Linked DNA regions of Homo sapiens. The protein of the gene in region 1 purifies or fractionates together with the protein of each later gene. This does not show direct contact. Each region holds a gene or a part of one and is shown on either strand. Other genes may lie near its edges. The genes, in order: TEX30 and PREPL.

What was found.
Region 2: the proteins of TEX30 (region 1) and PREPL purify together in Homo sapiens (affinity purification with mass spectrometry; one large-scale study listed by BioGRID and IntAct). This does not show direct contact.

The regions. Positions count from the first base shown.
Region 1 is NC_000013.11:102,768,017-102,771,045, forward strand, and holds part of TEX30 (testis-expressed protein 30), read right to left. Parts: intron 2,071-3,029; 5' UTR 2,011-2,070; coding exon 1,996-2,010; intron 1,526-1,995; coding exon 1,295-1,525; intron 1,188-1,294; exon of another isoform or gene 1,088-1,187; coding exon of another isoform or gene 974-1,087; intron 296-973; coding exon 244-295; exon of another isoform or gene 210-243; intron 1-209.
Region 2 is NC_000002.12:44,351,358-44,355,187, forward strand, and holds part of PREPL (prolyl endopeptidase-like), read right to left. Parts: intron 1-3,830. UniProt on the Homo sapiens protein: Serine peptidase whose precise substrate specificity remains unclear. Does not cleave peptides after a arginine or lysine residue. Regulates trans-Golgi network morphology and sorting by regulating the membrane binding of the AP-1 complex.

The DNA.
Region 1 (3,029 bases):
CATATGCAGGATGATGATTCAGGGATATGAATAAAAGGAGAGAGGCTCAGATTATAATACATATACATGAGGTTCAAGTTTGCTCTAAGTATATAAAGTGCTTTAACATTAAAAAGGTGACTTACCAAAACAACAAAAAAAATCCTTAAATTAGCTTCCTATGATCAACTAATTTTAATTCTCCATTACCTATTCCTATATTAAAACAGGTAATTAACAAGTATTCACAAGTATTGCACTTACCTCCAAGAAAAACACCTGCAAGTTTGTATTCTCCTGATGTCTTCAGGTAATTCTAGAAAAATAAAAAAATCATCAGTTCTTCACCTATAAAATATTCCACTGGAAAGGCAAGATATATTGTTTCTCATCATTACTGAAATGTATGAAAATCTATGCAAAGATAACCAGAAAATCTTAAGGGATTTTTCTTAAAAGAAGTAAGCAGTCCTTCCTCTTCTGGTCATGCCTTCACTATTAAATCACATGTTAGGTAATACAGGCAAATATGTGAGAAAAAAAGTCAATCTACCTTTACTAAAATATTTAAGCACTAAACTATTTTTTAGAGAATTATTTTTTAAAAAGGCCAGCAAAGGCTTCCAACTAATACCAAATTTGATAATGTTAACATCTAAAGTTCTAAAAAACTTATTAGTAAGCTTGAAATTATTTAGATCAGGGGTGTTCAATCTTTTGGTTTCTCTGGGCCACAGTGGAAGAACTGTGTTGTGCCACACATAAAATACACTAACACTCATGACACCTGATAAGCTTAAAAAAAAATTGCAAAAAAAATCTCATAATGTTTTAAGTAAGTTTACAAACTTGTGTTGGGCCACGTTCAAAGCTGTCCTGGGCCATATGTGGCCCATGGGTTGGACAAGCTTGATTTAGAGAAACTTTAGTGTTATCCAGGATTTTAAGCAAGGTTTCTAAATAACATATACAGAAAACAGTATCATATTTATACATGCATAGTATGGTAGATGAAATATTCTAGAATGCCAAAATGATGTGCTAAAGTTACATAATTCCAGGGAGAAAAATCATAAGTAGCTTCCTTGGCAATATCACGGAGGAACATTTATGATGTAAGCATTCATCTCCATGGAAACTGATGACAAGGGAAATCTGACGACTAAAAAGCTTTCATGTACTGCTGAGTTTTCTAAGAATACACTCATTCAAAGATTTTTTAAATTAAACCAGATGACTAATAAAATTTATCTTACATTTATTAAGGATTTCAAACAGAATTCTGTTATAAGTAAATATAAAGAAATTTTCTTACCAAAACTGATTTATACGCCTTAATTCTATGTACAATATTAAGGCCTTTACAGGTAAATCTCAGGCAGAAAAACCCATGAGATGCAAGATGGGATGCCAGTGACATCAAATGAGGAAGATTCATATCTCCTGATGCTCCATGTGTAAGAATTATTCCATATGTTAAGCTCTTGTTAGGTACCAAACAAACAGCATCTAGTAATTTATTTCCAAAAGGTATTTTTAATTTAACCTGGAATTCAAGAGAATAAAGGGATCAAAAATTACTTTCTTGCCTATTAAGACAACTGAACAGCTATATATATGTTTGCTCTGTGAGGCTCATAATTCAAGTCATAGCCTCCAAATAAAAAGTAGTGATATTAATAATAGTAGTTAAGTGCTTACTGTGTCGGGTATTATTATAAGTGCTTTATATGTATTAACTTATTTCACTTTTCTAACAATTCTGTGAGGCAAGCACTATCATTATCCCCATTTTATAGATAAGGCACAGCAGATTAAGTAACTTGCCCAAGGTTATATAGCCGCTAGCTAGGATTTAAACTCAGGGTAGTCTGCTCTAGATTCCTCGCTCTTAACCACTTATGCTATACTGCCTCCCACAGTGAAAGTTGAAAATAAAATTACTCTGAAGCCACATAATTACAAACAAACAAAAAACCAGGAACCCTGAAGATGCAGAACATACGAAAATATTACCTCTGTATGACTCATTTTCACTGTTGAATAACAAACTTAAAGTGCATTTACATCTGAGAAGCAAAGGACATCTCCCTGAAAAGAAGATTCTGTTGTGAAAGGTGAGTTGGCAGACATGGATATGACACAAAAACTATGAATGAACACATTCAGTAGCTAAAATAAACATTTAGAATTACTTCCCTAAAATCTGGTGTCTTTACATGTACATTTTTCTACGGGCACTCAGAATTGGTTAGAGGGCCAGGTGCAGGGTTGGTAGATGTTATAGAAGATAAAACAAAGGTGATACTTTGACATGGAAACTGTAAGGTAATTCATATCAAAGTAGGATGCTGTATCTTGTCAAAATATGGTAATGTAAAATGTATAAATACACATTTTTGTAAGAATCTTCATTCTAAACCAACTATCCTAAACTTAATTTTTCAGCATCTTTCCATTAACCCATTTTCTTCATCATTATAGTTCCCAAGCCTACCCATCCACATCTTGTCATGGAACTTCACAGTGCTGCTAGAAGGCAGAGTATATATGTCTTCACCCTGTTTACTTTGGACTTGGCTACGTAACTTGTTTTAACTAATGGAATGTAGGTAGACATTTCAATGTGTGACTTCTGAGCTGAGGCATGGCAAACTTCCAGAAGCCCTTTTGAACTTTCACCCTCAGCCATGAGAAAAACATGCTCTAGGTGGTTTTGCATTTTCAGCCTGGGTCTCAAAATGAAGACACACGGAACAGAACTGAACCCAAAACTGAAGTCTGGAGTCCAGACTAGTCTAACCAACATCTGACCAACAGCTGATCTGAAGATCCATGAGCATAAAATGTAAGCCACTGAAATTTTGGGGTTGTTATGCAGCATTCCTTCCTATGTTAAGAGCTCTTGTATTGTTTAAGACATTACCAACATCAGGATCTCCATTACTCACCCATTTTTCCCATTAACATTTATTTATTCATTCATTCAATAGGTAACAATAACATGGTTTAAAGTTCAAAAGGTACCAAGAATATGTAGTGAAAAAGTC
Region 2 (3,830 bases), on another chromosome or scaffold:
TAAGGACTCCCAAATTTACAGCTGTAGCCTGAACAATCCTGACCAAGATGAACTTGTATATCCAACTGACTACCCAACATTTTTACTTAGATGTCTAATATGCCAAAAAATGTCCGAATCTGAACTTTAAATCTCCCCATATATCCCTCGCCCTATTAAAAAAAAAAAAAACAAAACCCTGTTCTCCAGGCAATCTTTCCAATTTACATAAATGACAAATCTGTCCTCCCAGCTACTCAGGCTTAAAAACATTACAGTTGGATTTGTCTTTTTCTCTTGCCACAAACAACTGGTCTGCTAAATCCTCTCAATTCTACTTTCAACATATATTTAGAATCTGACCACTTCTCACACTTGGACTGGACTACTTGGCTAGTATCATCATCATTTCTCCCTTGGATTACTGCAAAAGCCCAAAAGCTTTCTCTGCTTCTGCGCTTGCCTCCTGGTCTATTTTCAACAAAGGAGCTTGTGTGAGTCTGAAGTCAGATTATGTTACTCCACTCAAAACCCTCCAGTGGTTTCCCATCTTGCTCAAGAGGAAAAGCAAAAATTCTTACAATGGTCTACAAAGTCCTAAAGAATCTTGTCCCATTACATTGCTGACCTAATCTACTGCTACACGCCAAGCCCACTTATTCCAGTTAATCCATACTTGATGTTTCTTGAACATATCAAGCTTGCTCCCATATCAGTTTCTTAGAACTTGGGCCCTATGCCCAAATACCTCCTTAAAGCTATTGCTCAAATGTCATCTTCTAAGTTAGGCCTTTCCTAACCATTTTACTAAAATAACACCCCTCCCTATCCCCACACTGCCTATTCACATCTTCCCCGTCTTTTTTTTCTTTTCTTCTTCGCCATAACTATCGCTTTTGACCCACTTTGTATTTCATTCATGTAATTCTTTTTATTTTTTTGAGAGATGAGGACTTGCTTGTGTCCACCTCAGCTGGAGTGCAGTGGCATGATCTCGGCTCATTGCAACCTCTGCCTCCTGGGCTCAAGCAATTGATCCTTGATCTCAGCTCTCAAGTAGCTGAGACTACAGGCGCCACCATGCCCAGCTAATTTTTGCATTGTTTGTAGAGACAGGGTTTTGCCATGTTGCCCAGGCTGTTCTTGAACTTCTGGGCTCAAGCAATGAGCCCACCTCAGCCTCCCAAAGTATATTACAGGCATGACCCATTGCACCTAGCCTTGTTCATGTAATTCTTTATTCTTTCTCTTTTCCTTTCTCAAGTAGGATGGTAAGCTTCACAAAGGCAGGGATTTTTGTTTATTTTGTTCAGTGTTATATCTCCAGTGCCTAGAATGGTGCATAGCAGGTGTTCAACAAATATTTGCTGAGTTGAATAAAATTCAGACAGCATAAAACATAAAATGAAAAAAACATATTTAACAAAAGATATCACAAAGTGAAAAAAATAATAATAGAACAAATATGGAGAAGATATCTACAGCACATATAAAAGACAAAGGACACGTAAAGAAATCTTATGAATCAGTAAGAAAAGGACAGACAATTAAAAGAAGGTCAAAAGACAAGAATAGGCATTCAAGAAGAAAAACTATAGGATCAATAAGTGTAAGAAAAGATGCTCACTGGCCATGAGTGGCAGCTCATGCCTGTAATCCCAGCACTTTGGGAAGCTGAGACAGGAGGATTGCTTGAGCCCAAGAGCTTCAGACCAGCCTGGGCAACATAGCAAGACTCTGTCTCTATTTAAAAAAGTTTTGGATTTTGGAGCATTTCAGATTTTGTATTAGGGATGGTCTACCTGTACTACAAGATATTAAAAAAGAAAGGTACTGTGAATGAGGCTAACTTAGGTCTACTTCTGACTCTACTAGTTTTCTTACTTAACTTTAGGCTCTGTGGCTTTAGTTTCTTCATTTGTTTAGAAAGAATACACACGCTTCCTGATTTTAAGACTTATTACAGGCCAGGCGCAGTGGCTCATGCCTGTAATCCCAGCACTTTGGGAGGCCAAGTTGGGCAGATCACCCTGAGGTCAGGAGTTTGAGACCAGCCTGGCCAACATGGTGAAACCCTGTCTCTACTAAAAATAAAAAAAAAATTAGCTGGGCATGGTGGCAGGCACCTGTAATCCCAGCTACTCGGGGGGCCTTGGCAGGAGAATTGTTTGAATCTGGGAGGCAGAGGTTGCAGTGAGCTGAGATGGCACCACTGCACTCCAACCTGGGCGACAGAGCGAGACTCCATCTCAAAAAATAAATAAATAAATAAATAAAACTTATTACAAAGCTATAGTAATTAAATGTGTAGTACTGGCATAACGACAGACATATACAAAAATGAGATGAAAGTGAGAGTCAAGAATAAACCATTGAATTTATGGTCAGTTGATTTTCAGAAAGGACACCAAGACAATTCAATGGAAAAAGAACACTCTTTTCAACAAATGTTGCTCAGACAATGGATATCCACAAGCAAAATAATAAAGTTGTACCCCAATCCCTTGCACTATAAACAAAATGAACTCAAAATGGGTCATAGGGCTGGGCATGGTGGGTCACACATGTAATGCCAGCACTCTGGGAGGCTGAGGCAGGAGGATTACTTGAGCTTAGGAGTTTGAGACAAGCCCGCACAACAAAGTGAGACCCTGTCTCCACACACACAAAAAATCAAAAAATTAGCTGGGCATAGTTGTGGGCCCAGCTACTTGCAAGGTAAGGCAGGAAGACAGCACGAGCCCAGGAGGTTGAGGCTGCAGTAAGCCATGTTTGTGCCTCTGCACTCCAGCCTGAGCAACAGAGTGAGGCCCTCTCTCAACAACAACAACAACAAAAAAAGTATCAAAGACCTAAAGAAAGAGCTCAGATGGGATGATTTCTGGGGTATGTTTTCTAGCAATAAAATTTATGGTTATATGAAAAGAAAAAATGCATTAATTTAACTATTAATTCATTCTATAAACACGTTGCTTATCTACAATGTGGCAGTCGTTATGCTATGTGCTGGCAAGATGTGTATTATAAAATTCTTGTCTTTAAGGACCTCCCAATATAATGGGGAGACAGGAAAAGTTTAAAATGATGTAGTAATAGCAGAGAGGTAAATATAGTGATTTGACTCCTATGGCTTCAACTACTATCTACATGTAACAACTCTCCCCAAATTCCAGACTCATATATCCAACTGCTACTGAAATCTCCACTTTACTAGTGAGTTATATTTATCCTTTCCTCCTCTCTTTTTTTTTTTTGAGATGGAGCCTCGCTCCCATCACACCAGGCTGGAGTGCAGTGGCACGATCTCAGATCACTGCAATCTCCACCTCCCGGGTTCAAGTGATTCTCCTTCCTCAGCGTCCCGAGTAGCTGGGATTACAGGCATGCGCCACCAGGCCCGGCTAAAATTTTTGGATTTTCAGTAGCAATGGGGTTCTGCCATGTTGGTCAGGCTGGTCTTGAACTTCTGACCTCAGGCAATCCACCCGCCTCAGCCTCCCAAAGTGCTAGGATTATAGGCGTGAGGCGCCACGCCCGGCCTTCTTCACCCTTAAGATCTGAATATCAGTAAGATTACATACATGACTGTGAAATAAGTCCATCTGAAACATAAAGATAAACCAGGTACGTTTTAGAATTTTGAGATTTTGGAATGTTAACTGGGTACCTTATCTCAGTTTACAGGGGAACAACACTCTAATCAAATGCAGTAACATTTTAGAGCTAAACATCTACTAATTGGGATAAAGATCATAATAGCTTTGTGTCAGTTTAGGTCAGGTTTTGCCCATTCTCAACAGCCTCCAATCAGTTAAAAAAAATCATTTGTTTTCTAACAGGCTTTTGGATTT